Linked DNA regions of Homo sapiens: region 2 is linked to region 1. A link means that fine-mapping ties the variant in region 1 to the expression of a gene that starts in the linked region. Tissue or cell type: fibroblasts. Region 1 holds a variant in brackets; the other region holds the start of a gene. All regions are shown on one strand. Distances are from middle to middle.

Region 1 (5,377 bases):
CCACAACAGGGTTAGGCAAACTACAGGGGGCCAAATTCGGCCTGCTGCCTGTCTTTGTAAATGTTTTATTTGAACACATTCACATTCATTCATTTATGTATTGCCTATGGCTGCTTTTGTGCTACAATGACAGAGCTGAGTGATTGCAACAGAGACCAGATGGCTTGCAAAGCTAAAATATTTACTATTTGGCCCTTTACAGAAAAAGTTTGCCCATCCCTGACCTACAAGAGAAAGTCCAATCTCCTCAGCATAAGATACACAGTTCAGAGAAGCTGGTCCTTACTAGCTAGTTTTCCTATATTATCTCGGACTGCTCCCCATCACATAGCCTATACTCCAAACAGGCCACAAACTTTAGGCCTCTCTATTCCTTTGCTTATTATGTTCCCTCTCTCTAGAAAAAATGCATTCATTCCCATCTACCTCTATCCTCAACTGAACCTCACATATTCTTCAAGACCTAGCTGAAAATGTCCTATCTTCCCTGAAAATTTCCCTGGTCTCCATTCTCACACCCAGGCAAAATTAATGATTTCCTTAATGATGTTGCCATTATCTTTTTTTTTTTTTTTTTTTTAAGAGACAGTGACTCGCTCTGTCAGGCCAGAGTGCAGTGGCGCAGCCTCAAACTCTTAGGTTCAAGTGATCCCTCCTCCTCAGCCTCCTGAGTAGGTAGGACTACCAGCATAAGACATCATGCCCAAACTGTTGTTATTATCTTTATATATACATCCATTATAACCACAGGTTGTATGTACATCGGTAACTTCAAAACTTAAGGGTGTAACTGAAAATACTGACATAAAATGGTAAGAGTGTTTCCTAGAAAATCAGATATATAAAATGACAGTACCATAACTAAAGAAAGTCCAGGTGCAGTGGCTCACGCCTGTCATCCCAGCACTTTGGGAAGCCAAGGAGGGAGGATCGCTTAAGTCCAGGAGTTTGAGACGAGCCTGGGCAACATAGTGAGACCCCCATCTCTACAAAATACAAAAAACTAGCCAGGCATGATGGCCCACGTCTGTAGGCCCAGCTAGTAGGAGGCCGAGGTGGGAGGATCACTTGAACCCAAGAGGTCCAGGCTGCAGTCAGCCATGATTGCACCATTGCACTCCAGCCTGGGTGACAGAGTGAGACTCTGTCTTAAAAATAAACAAACAATAAAGAAGGCAATATTTCATCATCCAATTATTTCCTCTTATTCTTCTCAATGTTCACCAAGATATCTTCTAATTAAAATTCAGCTATTCATGTAGCTTTCCTCACTAGATATTAATAAATTGATATTTTGGCTTACGTATAAGTCTTTTTTATGAGTATGGTTGCTACATGCCAGTTTTTAAGAGATTAGACACCTACCAGTTGATTGAAATTGTGTCTCTGTAAAGATAAAGCTGTGGGCCATCACCTGAAATCCTATCCCAGAGCTGGCTGGCCAGCTACTCCATAAAGACACCCCTCAAACTTACTTCAAACCAACAATTATGCTGTATTGGAGTTAGTCTTTCACCTGTCTCTCTCACTAGACACTGTAAAGCTCTTGAAGAGCAGAGAATCTCTCCCAGATCTCATTCCCCACTGGGCTGCCATTGCCAGGTACAGTACATAGCTAACACAAATTTGATATACTTGGATCACACATCAATCTCTGCTTTCCCTTCTTTGGTAGTTCCCTCTTTCTCCTCCAGCTACCTAGTATCCTCTTGCTCCCAAACTCTAATCCCCTTATCACAACTAAAGGGGGGGCTGAAAATGAATTTTTGATACTTCCGTTGATCCTTTGCAGCCCCTTCTTCACCTTTTCTTCCCTATCAACTCATTTGAGCTTAGTATTCAGAGTTCTCTGCTGTCTAATCTCCCCCAGCTAAAAACAAAACAAAAAATCTGCTCATCAGTCATCTCTGAAATTAAATGAAAATTTGATTTTTTTTTTTTTTAGGTAACCAAATGAGTTTCCTCTTCAGGAGACACCAGGCCTCAGGTTAACTCCACTTCAGGTGCTGGAGGCCTTCTCTTCAGTTGCGCTAGGCTTAAGACTGTTATGCTGTCTTTTCCTCACTGGCTTCTCCTAGGATCCCTGGGTGCTCAATCTCCACAACCCACCAGATCAGAGAATTTTTTTGATCTCAAGATTCCCAGATGAATATTTGTTTTTCAATATACTTACTGTTCTTTTGACATATATTTTTGAACATTTCCTACGCCATGAATTACTTGTTCTAGACAACAGGCATAAGCAGTATACAAGACAGACAAG[C/T]TCCCTGCCCTATTTTAAAAGTGGCATACAGACAAAAACCAATTAATAAAGGAAGAAGGTAATACGAGACAGCAATAAGTACTATAAGGAAGAAAACTTAAAGCAAAGGAGGTGGGGAGGATCAGGAAGGCTAACTGAAATGGTTCAGAAGGACTGTTCTGAAAGATGACTTTTGAGCTAGGACCTGAGGTCTCCAAGCAGCTCTCTCAGCCTAGGACTACGCTAATAGCTGCAATCTAGGTGAGAAATGATGGCAGCTTTGCCTAGAGTTGTGGCTGTGGAGATGGAGAGAAGTAGATAAACGTGATATGTTTTGGAAACACAGCGGTTGGCTGTAGGGGATAAAAACACGAGCTGCACGAAGGATGACTTCTAAGTCAATTTCAGTTAGTATTTAATAATATTTCTTATTCCACACCTATTTTTATCCTGAGGAGCTGAACATTGCCCTATGCTACCTGTATTTCTCAGCCTGCTTTAAAAAGAGTTTCTTGGTTGATATTTTCATCGTAATCTGTTTTGAGATCCACATTGTGAATGGTCCTAATATGACAGTTTATGAACAAACCCATAATAATGATAATCAACTAACTAAACAAAATCAACCAATCAAAAGTTACTAAATAAAACATTTGCTGGCTGTCCTTAAACATATTCACAGTCTAAACCAAAGAACATGTATTTTTGTTAATGCCATTTCTGGTATCATTTTTTGCAAAAGATTGAGTCTAAAAAGTGAAACAAGCAAATAACTTGTCACGCCTTAAAAAATTTTTACACAATTGCTGTTTCTTATTTTCTTTACAAGATTTTCAATGCTTACTGGTCAAACTGCTGAAGAGTCATGAATCTGGCACCCAGGAACCGTAGTGATGATCCCCTTACTCTGAGTTCCCTGACCTTCTTTCTTCTCACAGCCCAGTCCTCAGCTTACCTCAGCTCCACATCCCCATGGTTATCACCCCCCAGCAGTCCTTATCCTTACCAATAAGTGTGCCCCTCCATAACTCTCAACATCTTTGACTGTGTCTCTCTGGAACTCCTCTGGCAAAACCCCACATCTGGTTAAAACTAACTCTTCCGGCCGAGTGCGGTGGCTCATGCCTGTACACTTTGGGAGGCCAAGGTTGGCGAATTACGAGGTCAAGAGTTTGAGACCAGCTTCACCAACATGGTGAAACCCCTGTCTCTCCTAAAAATACAAAAATTAACTGAGCGTGGTGGCGCGTGCCTATAATCCCAGCTGAGGAGGCTGAGGCAGGAGAATCGCTTGAACCCAGGAGGCAGAGGTTACAGTGAGCCGAGATCGCGCCACTGCACTCCAGCCTGGGTGACAGAGCAATACTCCGTCTCAAACAAACAAACAAACAAACAAAAAACCTAACTCTTCCTACTCCTCACCAGCACCAGGGTGGCAGATGAAGCTGGAGAAAAAATACATGAACTGACTGGCTACATTTAAAATGTATCACCACTAATGTCAAAGAGTACTGCCTAATAATTCTAATATTCTAGTATTTCAAATCCTAGTCCAGTCACTCTCCTACTCTCTTAGATGACTTTTTTCTACTTCTTTTTTCTCAGACCTTCAATACTGCCTACCCCTCACTCTCTGATGACCTTACCTTAATATTTCACTGAGAATATAGAAGCAATCATAAAATGACATCTGAGTTCCCATCATATCAACAAACCTGCCACACCTGTACCCATACACTCTACCTTCCCTCTTGCTATTATGGATAAACTGTCCAGTCTCTTACCTAAGGCCAATCCTGCCTCTTGGAACCAGATCCCATCCCTGCTCATTTATACAAGGGTTCCAGTATACATTTATACAAGAGCACAATTATCCAGTAATTGTGCTCTTTTTCTACTGGACCATGCCCATTAGCACACAGACTGTAATACATACCTCAAATAAAAAACATATAAACTCTCCTTCTACTTCACATCCCTCTCCAGACACTACCCTACTTCTTGGCTCCACTTTACAGCCAAACTTAAAAGAATTGTCTATATTTGGTAACCCGAGTCCTCTCCCTCTTATTGTCTCAAATATTCTCCCATCTGGCTTTCATCCCCACCACTCACTCCACCCAAACTGATCTTGCCAGCACAGTGCTAAATCCAACTGTCAATTTTCAGTCCTCATCTTTTTTTTTTTTTTTATTGAGACAGAGTCTCGTTCTGTCACCCAGGCTGACATGCAGTGGTGTGATCTCGGCTGACTGCAACCTCCACCTCCTGAGTTCAAGCAATTTTCCTTCTTCAGCCTCCCGAGTAGCTGGGATTACAGGTGTGAGCCACCATGCCTGGCTAATTTTTTTTGTATTTTTGGAAGAGATGAGGTTTCACCATGTTGGCCAGGCTGGCCTTGAACTCCTGACCTCAGGTGATCCACCTGCCTTGGCCTCCCAAAGTGCTGGGATTACAGGCAGGAGCCACCTTAGTCCACATCTTAAGAGACCTATTAGACACAGTGTCTGGCCATAAAACACTTTCCTCACTTGGCTTTGGGGACATCATTTTTTCTTGGTCCTTCCTCCCTGACTGCCCCATCTCATTCTCCTCTGCTGGTTCCTCCTCATCTTCCTCATCTTCAAATGTTGGAGTGCCCCCAGTACTTAGTTCCTTGGACAGCTTCTCTTTCTATACTCACTGCCTTGGTGATTTCATACACTGATAACTTTTAAATTGATATCTCCAATCTGGACCTCTCTCCTGAATTCCATACTTGCAAATAACTATCCATGTAAAATCTCCACTTGGATGGCTAACAGGTTTCTCAAATGTAAACATACAAAACAGACTCCTAATTTTCTCCCCCATACCTGCTCTTGCCATGTTTTTCCCATGTAATAAACAGCAACACCATTCTTTAGTCTCTCAGGCCAAAAATCTTGGAGTCAACTTTGATTTCTCTCGCACTCCACACATGATCCACCCAGCAAATCTTGCTGGTTTTACCTTTAAAAGTCATCTCTTTACCATCTCCACTGCTTCCTTCCACTCTGGTCCAAGCCATTATCTCCTCTTATCTGGGCTATTGCAATAGCTTCCCAACTTCCGAAAGAAGCTGATCGGGAACATACTCCAATAAACACTCCTCTG
Region 2 (5,377 bases), 22 kb after region 1:
TCTGGCTCATCTCAGGTTCCAAATAAAATAAATTTACAGAATTCCACTATACTCTATGTAGATATGTCACATACATTCAAACAGTATAGACAGTATAGCCTGGGGAAAGAGATGACCAGTGAATGGAAAAAAATATTGACTTTAGTTGTTCCCCACTCCTGCAACTGGAAAATATCTCTCCTGAATATCTACCACGTTTTTATTCCCTACAGGTGGCTCTTACAAGTGCTGTGGACTATACATAAGTATATCTGCCTAATCCCAAAGAGAATAAGGTCCTAGACAGGAACCATGTCATTCATATATATATATATATATATATATATATAATTTTTTTTCTTTTTTTAGAGAGACAGGGTCTTACTCTGTCACGCAGGCTGGAGTGCAGTGGCACAATCATTGTCTCTCACTGTAACCTCAAACTCCTGGGCTCAAGCAATCCTCCTGCCTCAGCCTCCTGAGTAGCTAGGACTACAGGCATCACCACTACACCTGGCTAATCTATTTTATTTTGTAGAGACAGGGTCTTGCTATGTTGCCCAGGCTGATTTCAAACACCTGGGTTCAAGCAATCCTCCTACCTTGGCCTCCCAAAGTGCTGGGATTACAGGTGTGAGCCACCAGGCCCGGCCCTGGCCTCATGTCTTATACATATTCACCAGGAGCCTGAAACATTGCTTTGTACAGAATACAGAATGGGGCAAGACACATACTTGAATTCATGAATTGCCAAATTAATGTGAATGAAAACAATTAAGGAAGGAAGAGGAGGAGAGAAAAAAAAAGCAAAGAGAAAAAAGAAAAACTAGCAAAGAGAAAGGAAAAGGAAAGAAGGAGAAAAACTTATGATGACAATTGTTCTTGTTAGAGTTCATAGGACTACAGTATTTTAAAAAACTGAGAGTTGAAAAAGCCATCAATTATGTATCTAATATCAGTTATCAGTACCAGTATTTAAATTGCTATTAAAAACACCTGAAAATACCTCTAAAATTACCTCCCCACACTTGACATTCAAAGTATGGTCTCTGACAGCATCACCCATCAGACATACAGACTTTGGACTCTACTTCAAACCTAGAATATCCTGAATGAATTATGCATGCTAAAGTGTTTGAAAAGACTGCCCTCCACCATTCAGGGCCTTTCTGTTGTACCAAACCTGTTTTGTTTCAATGGGCCAGTAATTAAGACACGAAAAATCTTTGAATGGGATTTGACCTGTACCTATTTAATTTCAGATGAAGTTATTAATTACAATGTAGGTTGGCATATTGGATATACCACAAAATTTAGGAATTAATCATAAAAAATATGATTAAATAAAATTGAGCAGTAGGTCTACAGCATTCTCAAGAACTCATGTTTGCTCTTTCTCATGTCTATCATAGGACTTGGAATGCATATCGCCAGTGTTTCCTGAATGAGCAAAATAAATGAACTTTTAAAAACGAGAGATATTTAGGGGCAGAATAATCTTGGGGGTCATCTGGTCCAACAACCTAATTTTAAAGATCAGCAAACTACAATTTCTGAGAGTTGCAAAAGCAAAGAAAGCTCAAAGAATTAAAATATATTGGGACATTTTAATTCGTTTTGTTCCTTTCGTAGGAATGTGTAAGAAAGGGGACTGTAACTATTATGATTGCTGACTCTTAAAGGTGAAAAGGTGCCTAGGAAGAAGAAACTAGCAAGAGTAAATGAGACTTGGCAAAGCTATTTTTCCAAGCCTAATATATTTTTGACGGGCCAATTAATCAATTTAATCTGCCAAAAAAATTAATCTGAAGGTTTCTCAGAAAAGGAGAGGAGACATGAGCTGCATGAAAATGTTACAAACCAAGGGAGGCTGCACATAACTAACTTAAATCTCCACAGGCTTATTTCCTGTTGAAGTATGGCCTCCTGGGGTAAGTTTTACTGCAGTGTTCATTGCCAGATGACTTTTGGTTTTAACAGAGGCCAAGGGCAAGTTGGAAATGCGATTCTTAACTAAACATTAAAAAGAAAAAAAGAAACTGTGGCTGTTTCCCATTTCTGTTTGTAATCAGAATGCAGGCTTGCGGAGGAAACACACCATCCCCCGCAAGCAAAAATATAACGACACAGTCACGTCCTCAAAACAAACTAACACACAAACTTCCCAGCCGGATCCAGCTGTGCTGCCTGGGAGCTAGGAACTTAATTCTAAGAGCAGACAGATCAAACCGGTGAATGCAAGGGCAGCCACATTTCAATCACAAAAAGGGTGTGCCCTAAGTTTTGGCTCCCCCACTCCGCCGCCCCACTTTCAACAAGCCGAAGCCTTTGAAGGAGGCTCGGTGCCATCTCGGTGTGATCGCGTCCCGGCGACGCTGGGTAGGGTGCAGGGAGCCAGCTCGGCCGCGGCTCAGCGGGAGGGGAGGGGGCCGGTCCCGAACCCGGGCGCCCGGGCCGCGGGTGATTCACTGGGAACGCCAGGTTCGCGCGCCTAGACCGGCGGGCGACGCCCAGCGCGCCCCACGTCCCCCGCCCGGGCCGTTCGCGCAGAAGCAGCCCCCGCGCACCCCTGCTCCCCGAGACGGACCCGTCGGGAAGGAGCCTGGAGTCGGGCGGCCGGCGGGCAGCAACCTCTCCCTCCTCAGCCACCATGGCCGGTGCGACTCCCTACCCGCGCCCGCAGACGGACTTCCTGGAAAGCACCGGGCTGGGCTTACCTGACTGGCGCCCGCAGGGGCCGCCGACCTCTTCACAGACCCACGGAAACTGCCGGCCGCAAGCCGAGGCTCGGTTCCCAGCACCCGCCGGTCCGCCCGCGTCGGCCTCCCAAAGAGTTGCCAGACCCACCCGCCAGCAGCTCCCTCACTCGACCGCCCTGTAGGTGCGGTGGGTTCCTCCTTCGCCTCCGACGCGCGTGCGCACTCCCGTGCCGCGGGGCATCCTGGGAGTTGTAGTTCTAGCAAGAAGGGCGAGGCTCAACGCTGACCCTGGTCTTTACAATGGGCAGAACGTAGGAAGGGGACTGCGAATACCAACCCTTATCCCAGTCTAAGATAATGTTCTCTACCCGTGGAAGTACCTACTATGGACTTCCCCGAAGCTGGAAATAGTATCTAGAGGCTCTTTGGTATAGATTTCCTTTTTACTTTGACCTTTTGTAAAGAAGCGCACATGGCAGGGCTTGCATTGTAGCCTTGGTTGTTAATGCGAGGACATGACATTGGGGCCTTTAAACTGGTCATGACAGAGTTATAGAAAAGTAAAGGAATAAAATCTAAAGCCCAAGAGAGGCATAAATCATGCGAATGTCACCTCCAGGGTGTGGTGACCTTAGTGGTTTTCTTAGGTATGCGTTTCGGGGATGATGTAGCTATTGCAGGGCAGTTTCTGCCCATCCTATCTTCCCTTTCCATCTTCAAGCTCTACACCAGGCGGTGGGGCTGGCTGCTGTAGTGGGAGAAAAAACAGAATAGGCTGCTCAAGGGGGGGATTGGGGCAGATGGGTAGTCTAGAGGGAAGAGGAAGAGTGTGGGAATCTCTCAGAGGACTGTTTGACAGTGGCCTATGTAATGGCTACCTTTTGTGCGAGGCTCTGAGGAGAGGGAACTGCGACATTTTTCCATTTATTCATTTAGTCACTTACTGGGAATTTTCCTGGCCTGCTCTTCAGGAGTAGACCATCCCCAGGAATAATGCTAAACTTTGACACACCTTTCAAAAATGCAGCCAAAGAAGTGGACTGACGTGCCTGCTTGAGGTACATTCCAGCTACACCCAGTGTGCGAGCCACTTCATGGTTTAAACCTCTCCTGGCATCTACTTCTTCCCCTCAGAGGAGGGAGGACCCTAGGTTAGATAAACATCCTGGAATTTCATGCAACTGGCACCCACTAATTTCAGCAATGGAGATCACTGATGGTTTAGGTTTTTAAGGGAAAAAAACCCTTCTTTTTTTTTTTCCAAGACAGAGTCTTGTTCTGCCGCCCAGGCTAAAGTGCAGTGGTGTGATCTCGGCTCACTGCAACCTCTGCCTCCCAGGTTTAAGTGATTCTCTTGTCTCAGCCTCCCAAGTAGCTGGGATTACAGGCACGTGCCACCACACCCAGCTAATTTTTGTAGTCCTAGTAGAGATGGGTTTTCACCATGTTGGCCATTCTGGTCTTGAACTCTTGACCTCATGATCTGCCCACCTTGGCCTCCCAAAGTGCTGGGATTACAGGCGTGAGCCACCGTGCTTGGCCAGGAAAAAACCCTTCTCAATTGCAAATACTTAGAGGACAGTCAACACTCAATCTTGTGGCCATTGCATTTTATTTTCTATACCATCTTTGGGTCAATCTCTTGGAGATAACAGCTTTCTGAGAGCAATTTCCTACAGAATTCAGGTTCATAAGAATGTTTATACTTATAATACATACCAACCACTGGGCCAGCACTTCATTTGTAATATCTCATCTAATCCTCAAAACTAATCTAGTCCTCAAAACTCTATAAAGAATAAACTGGTATCCTCCATTTCTATAGATAAGAAAATGAAGACTCAGAAAAGTTAAGTAATTTGTATAAGGTCCCAGAGCCAGTAATTGGAGATCCAGAGATGAGACACAGTTCTCTTGAGTCAAATTCTAATGTGATTTCCACTGCTGATCAGACTGATGTGTCTCCTAAATCTCATCAATTTTTTTTTTTTTGAGACAATCTCATTCTGTCACCCAGGCTGTAGTGAAGTGGTGCTATCATGGCTCGCTGCAGCCGTGACCTCCTGGGCTCAAGCAATCCTCCAACCTCAGCCTCCTGAGTAGCCTGAGCAGCTGGGACTACAAGCATATGCCACCACACCCAACTAATTTTTTTAATTTTTTTTTTTTTGTAGAGACAGGGTCTCCCTATGTTGCCCAGGCTGGTCTTGAACTCCTGGGCTCAAGGGACCCTCCCACCGTGGCCTCCCAAAGTACTGAAATTATAGACATGCAACACCATACCCAGCTGATATGGTTTATTTTAAGAAGGACTTTCCTCTGCAATATGGCTTCTTTTGCTTTGGTCAGAGAGACTTTTTAATTCAGTGTCTGACTGACTTAATCTATTACACTTTTCCTCTCTCACCTTCCAATATGGGCTGTTAGGCATATATTAAATATATTTTCGCTATTCATTTCAAATTTTTCCTAACGAATGTATACATCTTATTTTAGTTCCTTTTTCTAAAATAATGCAGTTTGATGGTGGATTTTTTCCTTTCTTCAGGCATACATTATCATATTTTTATCACAAAGCTTATAAACATGAATCTCTTAAATCCGTGTACATTAAATACCACATATGGGGCCAGAGATGTTAAGAGTAATACCTTAGTATTGGATAGCACTGAAGAGGTAGAACCTTCCTCACTTCTTCC

Alleles and levels. Positions count from the first base shown, and alleles are read on the strand shown. Sizes are in standard deviations (SD) of each study's normalised expression.
In carriers of allele T in region 1, the expression in fibroblasts of the gene that starts at base 2,880 in region 2 tends to be higher than with C alone (small effect, 0.23 SD a copy in GTEx).

The links. PIP is the estimated chance that this variant, and not a neighbour inherited with it, causes the effect.
Region 2: TMOD3 starts here. The variant in region 1 is fine-mapped to the expression of TMOD3 in fibroblasts (GTEx, PIP 0.98).

Annotation. Positions count from the first base shown.
Region 1 is chr15:51,848,994-51,854,370 of GRCh38, reverse strand. The region is part of intron 1 of TMOD3 (tropomodulin 3); the gene reads right to left. Among named protein-coding and RNA genes, the nearest start is that of TMOD3, 22 kb to the right of the region's middle. The variant C/T (reference allele first, on the strand shown) is at 2,264.
Region 2 is chr15:51,827,156-51,832,532 of GRCh38, reverse strand. TMOD3 (tropomodulin 3) reads right to left here and starts at 2,880. Exons shown (of 10, transcript NM_014547.5): 1 at 2,697-2,880. RefSeq lists silencers at 2,321-2,600, 2,821-2,975.